Linked DNA regions of Homo sapiens. The protein of the gene in region 1 purifies or fractionates together with the protein of each later gene. This does not show direct contact. Each region holds a gene or a part of one and is shown on either strand. Other genes may lie near its edges. The genes, in order: TMPRSS12, FZD6 and FAM234A.

Region 1 (3,750 bases):
TGACAATGCAGGAGAGGAGAAAAGGCAGAGGAAATCCAGGAAGAAGACCTCTGCAGTTATTGATCCACTGCCTTTTTCATTTTATTTGGAGAGATGGGGTCTTGCTTTGTTGCCCAGGCTGGAGTACTGTGGCTATTCACAGGCATGATCTCACTACCAATCAACACAGGAATTTTGATCAACTCCATTTCCAGTCTGGGCCAGTTACCCCTCCTTAGGCAACCTGGTGGTTCCCCACTACCCGAAGGTCACCATATTGATGCCAAACTTAGTTGACCAGTTGACATAGCATACTACAGTCCAGAACTCCTGGGCTCAAGCAATCCTCCTGCCTCAGCCTCCTGAGTAGTAAAACTAAAAAATATATTGTTTAAAGCAGTGCTGTATAATAGAACTACAGGCATGTGCCACCGTGCCCAGCCCACTGCCTGTGTCACTGCTATTTGATGACTTGGCTGCATATACTTGCTTTATGAGTATGTTAAACCTCTACTATCTGTCATAGCAAGACCCGTCATCCTTATCACGTTGGCTATGGGTTTAAAAAAAGAAAAAAAAAGTCATCTTGCCTTGTTTACAAAGGCATACACAATCTGACCACATCTCACACACACAGAAATACACACACCCCAACTGTGTTTTTCTCCTCCTAATATCACCTTCCACTAAAATATCTGGGGAATAAGGACTTTGTTTCTTGTCAGCCCTCAGAGATCAGCTCATGCTGCAATTTGTTTCTCCAATATCACCTCCTCCACCCCAATTTCGGCACAGCTCTGAGACTCTGCTCCCTTCCCCACATGTTACCATGTGTAAGCCCCAAACTCATATACTCCTTTTATCTAATGCTGCCAACTGCACCAGCCTCGGAAGGATGGTATGAGCAAGGCAACTGTCCTTTTATTGACCTCTACGTTAACTCTCCACCACCTCACCAACTTCCCACAGCCCACACGGTCTTCTTATTACTGAAGGTGTTGGGTTAACAAAGGCAAAGTTCAGTATAGGTCAAGATAGGAATGACAGAACAATTTAAAACTGAACATTAGGTATCACTCTTAAAAACTCTGGGTTATGTTAAAGAAAAATTATTCAGTGATACTCATTAAAGCACAGCAAGGCAGACTTTATTCAGGACCATCCAGATAGGGATAGGGACCATGGCAATGGGATTTTGTAATGGGTAGAGGGACTGGGCTAAAATCCAAACAGAGCAGAGCCAAGGGAGAATTTACAGCCACGGAGCAGGAGAGACGTGTCAGTGGATGGAAAATTACTAAGAGGTAGCATCAGGAGTAATGGCATTCCGGCTAACCGACCTAACAGGATTCTTGCTGGACAGGCCAGGGTGATCAGACATCACCTGGGGGATAGTGGTGGATGAGGAAGCCGATCAGACCTTGAGGGTGAGGGGTTCTTTCTAAACTGACCTACCTATTCCTCGGCCGCCTCCCACACCTCCGGGCCTCACTCGCGCCTCCCCGCCAGGCCGTGCGCCCCGCGTGCCCAGGGCGGGTGGGAAGTACCTGCCGCCATCTTGCTCACCAGCCTCCAAAATGCGGCTGGGGCTCCTGAGCGTGGCGCTGTTGTTTGTGGGGAGCTCTCACTTATACTCAGACCACTACTCGCCCTCTGGAAGGCACAGGCTCGGCCCCTCGCCGGAACCGGCGGCTAGTTCCCAGCAGGCTGAGGCCGTCCGCAAGAGGCTCCGGCGGCGGAGGGAGGGAGGGGCGCATGCAGAGGGCAGTACCTGTTCGTGCCTGTCTCTGGGGAGCCTCTCTTACCTTTTCCCCACCGCTATAGTCTTTGAATTCGGGTTTCTCCTTTTCTGTTGTCCCAATGGCCTTTAACCAAAATTTTACATACCTAAGCAGTTTCTAGACCGGCTGTAATAACAGTAGTTGTAATAGTGAAATGACACATTTGTATTGTGAATCTGTATTTTCTCCTCAAAACATTCTGGGTTTTATCATCCCCATTTTATAGATTAATAAGTCAGGGGATAAAGAGTTGAAAGGGAGGGCTATTAGGTGACCATTTCATACTATAGTTGAGAAAAATTAGCCCAACAAGTGAAATGGTGAGCATTAGAATTTGCGGCTCTCGACTCACCGTTCCCAGGCTCTTTAACTGCTATTTCACACAGGGAAGAATGTGATACGTGGCCAAAAATTTTTATTTTTATATTTTTGGGGAATAGAGTTTTAAAATTAATGAATTGTGTTGACTTCATGTCTATTTGTAAGTAATCGATTATGGCATATTTGTCTTAACTCTCCAAGTTTCTTTCAAAATATGGGCGTGTCTCCGGTATGTTAGCTTGCTTTGTGTTTTTAACATAGGAATTTAAAGGATTGCATTAATATGTTCAGCTTAGGAAGTAACACATACTATAGATGCTCAGTCCAAATAATATATCATTTTTATTTTTAGATTGTGGAACAGCACCGCTTAAGGATGTGTTGCAAGGGTCTCGGATTATAGGGGGCACCGAAGCACAAGCTGGCGCATGGCCGTGGGTGGTGAGCCTGCAGATTAAATATGGCCGTGTTCTTGTTCATGTATGTGGGGGAACCCTAGTGAGAGAGAGGTGGGTCCTCACAGCTGCCCACTGCACTAAAGACGCTAGGTACGTATTCAGAACACAACTATTTTTATGCTCTTAGGGGATATTTTGAAGTGATAGAGGACCATTTAACTTCAGCCATTTTCAGCTAAGCTATGTTTGCAAATAGCCATAATGCCTTATATATAGTACAGTGTATTTGTTGAAAGGAATCCTTTATTTATTATTATTATTATTATACTTTAAGTTCTGGGGTACATGTGCAGAACGTGCAGGTTTGTTACATAGGTATACATGTCCATGGTGGTTTGCTGCACCCATCAACCCATCATCTAACTACATTAGGTATTTCTCTTAATGCTATCCCTCCCCTAGCCCCCTACCCAGGAATCCTTTATTTTTTACTTTTTTTTTTTTGAAATGGAGTGTCACTCTGTTACCCAGGCTGGAGTGCAGTGGTGCAATCTTGGCTCACTGCAACCTCCGCCTCCTGGGTTCATGCGATTCTTCTGCCTCAGCCCCCGGAGTAGCTGGAATTACAGATGCCTGCCATCATGTCCAGCTAATTTTTGTATTTTTAGTAGAAAAGGGGGTTTCACCATGTTGGCCAGGCTGGTCTTGAACTCTTAACCTCACGTGATCTGCCCGCCTCAGCCTCCCAAAGTTCTGGGATTACAGGTGTAAGCCACCATGCTCGATCATGGATCTTTTAAATTAGAGGCTGGTAAACTTCCTATAAAGGTAGTAAATATTTTACACTTTGAAGGTCATATGGTCTCTCTCACAATTGCATGAAAACCAGCACTGAAAATAAGTAATTGAATGAGTGTGGCTATAATCCAATAAAACTTTATGAACACTGAAATCTGAATTTCATATGTTTAACGTGTCATGAAATATTGTGGTTGATTCAGCCATTTAAAAATGTAGAGTAGGGCATGTTGGCTCATATTTGTTATCCCAATGCTTTGGGAAGCCAAGACGGGAGGATCACTTGAGGCCAGGAGTTTGAGACCAGCCTGGGAAATATAGCGAGACCCTGTCTCTATATTTAAAAAAATTGTTAATGTAAAAAACATGCTTTATGGACTGTATGAAAACAAGAGACATGCCAGATTTGGCCTTCACTATTAGACTCTTTGAAAAAGAGACTCTCTTTGCTTCATCTCCATTGACCCATAAAA
Region 2 (3,750 bases), on another chromosome or scaffold:
CCTTCAGGAGACTTAACAACCTAACAAATCTGTATGGGAAGGCAGGTTCCTGTCTGTACAGGTAGCTTTCTTCTCACACTCCCTAGTAATTTGCATATCTCTAAACCAGAGACAGGTAACTAAGGCACCTAAGGCAATCTTTAGTGTCACTGTACTCCTCCCAAGTGGTTTCTTTTAACAAGTATCTTATAAAGAACATATAAGTGCTATGCTTAGAAAACAAAGTCACTTTTTAGTGACTTTGTGATAGCCTTAAAATACAGTCTACAGCAACAAAATATTCTGATAATTTATTTATTTCAGAAAAACTGTACCAAGTGAATATTACAACTACTTATAAAAACTTGTAAATTTCTTCAGTTTTAGTCCAGGCAATAAATATTACATGTTCAGTGAAGTAGAAAAATATTCAGAATTCGCATTTCTAGAAGAACTATCATACTTGATTCAGGAAAGCAAAATATTTTCTAGGTACAAGGTATTTAGAAATCATGTGTAACCATACTTCATTATATAAAATGAACCCTATTCAAACGAATCTACTAAACAGGGCCGCAAAGGTACACAAAACATAAGTCAGTAGAGGGATTTAATTTTCAAAAGGACTTTTCAAAACACAACTTGTACACAACTTGAAGAAATCGGCTCTGTTTAAAAATAGACTTATTTTTACTAGTTTATTCTAGAACAGAGCATAAACTACTATTCAATAAACGTATGAAGCACTACTCACCTCCATTTCCACCGCGGCAATACTCTGGTCATAATGACCCATCAGATTAGGGAAAAACGTCATGTTGTAGGCCATTTTCATACATCTGGGAACAGTAATTGGTTCACAGGTGAAGAGACTGTGCCCTCTTAGGAGGGGTAGAAAAATACACGTCAACAAAAATGTAAACATTTCCATTTTCTTCAAATTCCTGATTTTACCACATGGCTTGGATGAATCACTCTTTGCATCCTCAGAAGATCCCCATCCAAAGATAAAATGTTCAAATTCCTCATTTCACTATTTTACTCATTTTCAGGCTTTCCTGAAAATGAGTCCTGGGTCAATTACTGTAAAAACAAAAGGAGGGTGTATCAGCAACATTTGTCATAAACTCAAATGTGGAGTCAAAGTGCAGAGTTAAGATTTTCACCCCAGGTAACAAACACTGGAAAAACAACGGAAAATTCTGTCCTAACGAGATACTCTTCCACCTGCCTTAGCATGGAATATATCATTTGCTAAGGAAGCTGCACCTCTAGGAAACCGATGCTAGGAGGTTGGTGCTGTATGGAAGACAGGGTTAAAAAGAGGGAATGGCAAGAGTAAGATGGAGGAAAAAAGGAAAGCTGGTGATTCGGAGTAAATTATAAAGGATTAATATAAGCATACAATCTAAGGGCCCCTGTTGGAAAGCTTATTAAGTACAAGAAAACTAAGGCCCTGGGAAATTCCTTAAGACCCAAAGAGTTCTTAAACTTGTAAAAGACTCTGAAGAGTCAGTTTTTGTGGCAGTCTTCTGGGTATGTAGTTTTCTCGATTTTCGTAAGGCCAACTAGAGGGAGACTTTTAGGATTCCTCCAGTGGAGGAGCAACATTGCAGTTTTCACTGGCTAGGAGGGTGTAGTGCTGCCGTCGAAAGGAAAGTGCGCAAATCTGTCCCGGGGGAAGGGCGAAGGCAGTCCCCTTGCGGGAGGAAGGCTGTAGGCCCCGGATTACGAATTACCCGCGCCCCAACACACACTGATGCCCGGTCCGCCAGCGCCCCACACCCGGGAACCTGCCCCAGGCCTAGAGCCAGACAGCAGCGTTCCTGGCCTGCGCGGCGCCGCGGGGCCCCGGCATCGCCTTTCAGAGCCGGTTCCCGCTTCCGAGGAAACTCAGGTGCGGGCCGTCCCGCCGTTGCCTCCCCAGCACCTGCGGCTCCCGGCGCGCCTCATCCCAGCCGCGGCCCCTCGCCCCTCGAGGCCCTCCCCGCTTCCCCCGGCACCCGCCCGGCCCCTGCCCAGTCCCAGCCGTGGAAGCCTCACCTCGGGGGGCGGTCGAAGGCCGCTGTCCCTTCCCGTCCCCGTCTAACCCACCGTTCCCCCCAGGGACCTGAGACGGCTCCGGGGTTGCGTCCGGGACTGGAGCTGCCTCGAGAGCCGCACGGGGAGCGAGAGCTGAGCGATCCCGCGAGACTGCGCCGCCAGGTCGGGCGGGCAGGTCCGGGCTCGCGGCGGCGGCGGCGGCGGCGGCGGCGGCGGCGGCGGGACTGGCCCTGCGCCCGGGCACCGCCTGCGCTGCGCCGCCCGGCCTCACTCCGCGGCCCGCCAGGACCCGGCCCCGGTGAACGGGCTCGGGGTGCCGAGGTCCGGCTGCGGGGCCGGGAAGCCACCTCCACCTTGCCGTCTGTTACGACCCCCGAGGCGCAAGGCTGAGCCCCATCTCGCTATCCGGGTCCGGAGGGGTTCACCTTAGAAGGATTTTTTGAAGCTCTTGGCGCTGGCTCTAAAAGAACCCACTTCCTTGCGGATTTCAGGAGTCAAGAATCCTTAAACGGAGCCAATTTGCTTTGTAAAGCCAATTGCCCAAGTGACTTGAGTTCGAAAGGAGATACTTCCTGGACAACTGCTATAAAAACAACAACAAATACTTTTATTAATTCGGGGAGCCTGGTCACCAACTGGATGCTCAGGTAGCAGTGGGATTCCAGCCCTGGCGGGTCCCACAGTTTTATTGATACAAACCCTAATAGGAAGTTGAACTGCTGTAGAAATCAACCTAGTTTGGGGTACCAACTCTGTCATAGATATTAGATAAATTACCCTAATCTTTAAGGGGCATAGTTTCCTCACAATATAGGAATGACAATAGTTGTAATGATGGTTAACGTTAATTGAGCACTGGCTGTAAGTCAAATAGTGCCAAGTTCGTTACAAGTGTTTACACCTAACCTGTAAGGCCCTCCTATGAAACAGGCAGAATAGTATGAGAAGCAAATGAACTTGTAGAAGTACTTTGAAAAATGCAAAGTAACTTGTAGATGGAGGCTATTCTTGTCAGATAAATCATCCTGTTGCAGAAAAGGAATGTCATATTTCCATACCTAGAAGGACAACCCTGAACAACCAGAGTAAGAGTTTTGGAATCTGTGGGGAAAGACGAATTTGGAGTGGGGAATTCCTCCCCAGTTTTATCAAAAGCTTACTGATGTTGGGAGACAGGTAGTGATGAAGAAATATTAACATCATTAAGAGCTGGATAGTTGATGTATTGCAGAATAAATTTCTATGTAGGAAGAATATTTTCCCCTAAATTTCTAATTTTCTACATTGGAAGACTATTTCTCTCCAGTTTCTACGAACTTAATGAGATCTTTTTGTGATCAGGCTCTAGTGACTACCAGGCAGTGAAGTATCACTAAAAGTATCATTTAAAAACGATACTTTTTAAAATATCGTTTGAAAACGATACTTTTAAAGTATCATTTGAAAACGATAGTTTTGAAATTCAAGTGAATACTTGTTCCATTATTTGGAAGGAAAAATTGTAGTAAGTTGATTTATACAGAAGTAAATAAAGCCTGTTTTATTTTTCATTGTATTTAATTATATAGTGAGCAGTGATGAACTAGAATGATTTTTTTTTTGTCAGGATGGATTTGGAATACTTAGGCAATCATCTATATCATCGCTTGTCTTTCACTGTACAATTTCATCCCAATGGTACGAGATTAAGAACACAAACTTTGGAGTTCAAAATCCCTGGGTTCAAAA
Region 3 (3,650 bases), on another chromosome or scaffold:
ACTCCAGCACCTCGAGAGCAGAAGCAGGACCTGAGGAGCCGCAGGGCAGTCATGCTCCACGAGTGAGGCTGGCCAGGGATGTGGCAGAAACAACGTACCGCAGGGAAAGAGGATGTAGTGGGCACCTGTCCTGGTGACGTGAAGGAGGAAGCCACTTTCCCCGTCCACACCAAGGCTGCCTCTGAGGCCAATCTGGTGCCCGGTGCTGCCGGAGTAGAGGTGGCCACTAACCTGCAATGACACAGGATGACACAGGAAGAGAGGGACCTGAGCCTGGGGCTGCAAGGACACAAGGCCCAGGAAGAGAAGGACCTGAGCCTGGGGCTGCAATGACACAAGGCCCAGGAAGAGAGGGACGTGAGCCTGGGGGCGGGGCACTCTACAATGGGAGATGTGGAAGGGTAAGGGGCCCACAGGCTCTTGGTTTTGAGGAAAGACACGCTGACATCAGAGAGTCTGCCACGATGGTTGGTGCCTCCACACTGCACGGGGCACATGAGGCAGGCAGGGCAGCCCCAGTGCCTCACAGGTGCTCCCAGCCCTCAGAGCTTCACCCCCAACACTGCAACAGCACAAATGGGAAGTGTGTACTCCACCATTCTTGGGGAGGCCCCAAAGCTGCCTGGTAGAGATGGAGCCCCCTGAGTATGCTGGGTCTATGGGAGTTGGGAACGTGGGGCTCTGGGCGAGTCCCCGGCAAGTGGTCAGACCCGAATCCTGTCTGGGAAGTGGCAGCAGATGGGGAGGTAGAGCAGGGCCGTGTGGCAGGTGGCCTCGTGACTTGGGAGCAGAGCCAGGCTGGGATGTACCTCCTCCCGCTCCTGGGTGAGAACCAGCAGGTCTGGGGCCCCATCGCCGTCCACATCAGGCACCTGCAGCAGAGGGCTCAGGATGGACGCATTCCCGCTGAAGCTGCTGCTGTGGTTCCACAGGGTTTCCCCTAGAATCAAGCACACGGTCACGGAACGTGGCCCTGAGTCCCCTTCAACAGCAGCCCGGCAACTGCAAGGCCTGTGACAGGCAGGCTCCTGTTGAGGCATCACCCTCGTGAGCCCACGGCTCACTGCACACTCAGAGCAGATGCCAACAGGAGGGGAGGGCGGCACTCCTGTGCTCGTGAAGGAGCAGCACGCGGAGGTGGTGGACACACGTCCTGCCCGTGTATGGAGACTCGGTGGCAATATGCCAAACGCTGACAGCCTCATTCCTGGGAACCGCAGAGTTCCCCCTTCCTTTTCTCCTATCTGCGTGTCCTGGAACCTCTAGGGCCCATGCTGACCCTCCTGCCCGAGTGGATGAAGCCTGACCTCACCCACCTCTCGAAGCCCCTGCCTCCTGCTGGGGTTGCAGGCGTGCCCTTGGTGCCATGCAGGCCCCAGCTGAGTGGCCCCTTCATCTGCCCTCCACATAGAAGGCAAGAATGGAGGTGTGCGCCCGGAGGCAGATCTACTGACCACAGGTCCTCGTCCAACTCCTTACGCACATACAATCTCATCCAAACCTTTTTTTAAAGACAGATTCCTTGATTCTTAAAATATTTTCAGCCTGCTCTTTATTCTCCTCCATATCCTTAAAATGACAGCTTGTAAGGGAAATATGAACATTCACCAAATCTAGGCACAGAAATCTTCCAGACCGCGATGAGGTGCAAGGAGCCCACACACACACATGGCCCCGTGCACCACGCATTCTTTCCCTCGTCCTTCCACGAGGCCGGCTCCGCTGGGGCTCGGAGACCTGCACCTTCAGGCTTAGGGGCACTGACAGGCCCCGATCTCCCCTGACGGGCCGAGTGCTGGTTCATGTTCTGGGCTCGCCCTGGGCACTGCCACCACTGACACCCCAGGAGCAGCCGGGGGCCAAGCCGCTCCTCCTCTCTGCTACCCCATGGCAGGTGACATCGGACTGCCCCTGTGTGTTACAGCCCACCAGCAAGGTGTAACGGGAGGTAACAGACACAGTGCAGCTGAAGGCAGCCGAGGCGTGTGCCTTCCACACGCTTGCAGCCTCACTTGGAGGTTCTCCCCATAACCTTCCTTCCCATCCAGCCACCCTCAAGATCACAGGGCTGAGCCTCGTCGCGGCCTCCTGGCATTAGCCCTCAGGGTGAGGTGGCTCAGGTGAGAGGCCCTCAGTGAGAACCCCGCTGCCTGGCTGGCCTACCTGTGAACAAGTTGACTGCAATGAAAGAACTGGGTCTGCCCACCAGGATGCAGGCAGAAGGTGCCTCACTGCCTCTTGGCTGGGGCACAGCACACTCCACGAGGGCCACGTCTTGGGCCACAGGTCTCTCCCAGAGCGTGCTGCCGTTGGCCCCCGACACAGCAGCTGCAAAGGTGCAGGGAGAGGAAAAGCCTGTAGGGAGAGACACCGGCACCTCACTGTTGCACCATCTGGGCAGGCAGGCCGGCCAGCCCCAGCATGTGCTGTTCCAGGTCTGTTTTCCTCACACCTCTCCTAGGCCACAGCCCCTCCCGCCAGGTGGATCTCCTGTATCTTGCAGGCTCCCGGGGCTCTAATGCTGACCCCACGGGGCTCAGGGGCCAGGGCAGTGCTGGGACTGGGCTTCCAGGCCTCTTTCTGGTCTGCCAGGAAGGATGACGAGATGGGTTCCAGAAACACCACCATCTGCTTCCCCCAAACACTGAAAGCGAGAGGGTGACCCAAAATGACGATTCCTCTTTCTACAGGGAGCTCCGCCTTTTTCATATAAAATGAAATTACCTTCGTCCACACAGGATCGGCTGAAATTGTTGCTGCTGTTGGTGTTTTTATAAAGAAAAAGAACATCTTGGATCCTGTCCCCGTTTATATCATCCACAGCCAGAAAGTCATAGATAACTGAAAGAGAAAACCACAGACTATACTCCGCGGGCCATGCCTGGTTTCCAGGAACGATCAGGTCCAGCACGACCTACTTCTCTGCTACATGGAACCTGCCACTGTGAGGGCACCCAACGAGGACGGTGGCTTCTTCCTCACTAGGATGAGTAATTTCCTTCGTGAAAACCAGGGGGTGGGCAACAATGCCTAGTGTTAACCTTCAGAAAGGAACAAGCAGGACATCTGGGCATTAAGAATTGGATGTTCTGGCACCTTCTGTTCAGGGATAAATCCCTCCCTAGACCAGGGGGCATCTAGACAGTCCACACTCCATACTCGTCAGGGTTTACACTTCCTTTCATTCAAGGACTCAAGTGATAAACTTTATGCCCTAAAATCAAACACCAAAAGAGTGAAGTTGGCCGGGCAAGGTGCCTCACGCCTGTAATCCCAGCACTTTGGGAGGCCGAGGAGGGCAGATAACGAGGTCAAGAGATTGAGACCATCTTGGCCAACGTGTGAAACCCTGTCTCTACTAAAAATACAAAAAATTAGCTGGGTGTAGTAGCACGTGCCTGTAGTCCCAGCTACTCGGGAGGCTGAGGCACAAGAATCGTTTGAACCCAGGAGGCAGAGGTTGCAGTGAGCGAGATTGCACCACTGCACTCCAGCCTGGCCGACAGAGCTGGAGTCCATCTCAAAAAACAAAAACAAAAAAATAGGCCGGGCCCAGCTGCCCCCTCCGGGAGGTGAGGGGCGCCTCTGCCCGGCCACCCCTACTGGGAAGTGAGGAGCCCCTCTGCCCGGCTACCACCCCGTCTGGGAGG

What was found.
Region 2: the proteins of TMPRSS12 (region 1) and FZD6 purify together in Homo sapiens (affinity purification with mass spectrometry; 2 studies listed by BioGRID and IntAct, with this or other methods). This does not show direct contact.
Region 3: the proteins of TMPRSS12 (region 1) and FAM234A purify together in Homo sapiens (affinity purification with mass spectrometry; one large-scale study listed by BioGRID and IntAct). This does not show direct contact.

Annotation. Positions count from the first base shown.
Region 1 is NC_000012.12:50,841,409-50,845,158, forward strand, and holds the start of TMPRSS12 (transmembrane protease serine 12 precursor), read left to right. Parts: upstream 1-1,517; 5' UTR 1,518-1,556; coding exon 1,557-1,743; intron 1,744-2,433; coding exon 2,434-2,629; intron 2,630-3,750. UniProt on the Homo sapiens protein: Required for male fertility. Plays a critical role in sperm capacitation and acrosome reactions during fertilization, and also plays a role in the regulation of proteins involved in spermatogenesis.
Region 2 is NC_000008.11:103,297,268-103,301,017, reverse strand, and holds the start of FZD6 (frizzled-6 isoform a precursor), read right to left. Parts: upstream 2,121-3,750; 5' UTR 2,023-2,120; intron 1,063-2,022; 5' UTR 911-1,062; coding exon 734-910; intron 1-733. UniProt on the Homo sapiens protein: Receptor for Wnt proteins.
Region 3 is NC_000016.10:258,674-262,323, reverse strand, and holds part of FAM234A (protein FAM234A), read right to left. Parts: intron 2,842-3,650; coding exon 2,725-2,841; intron 2,356-2,724; coding exon 2,164-2,355; intron 941-2,163; coding exon 810-940; intron 232-809; coding exon 99-231; intron 1-98.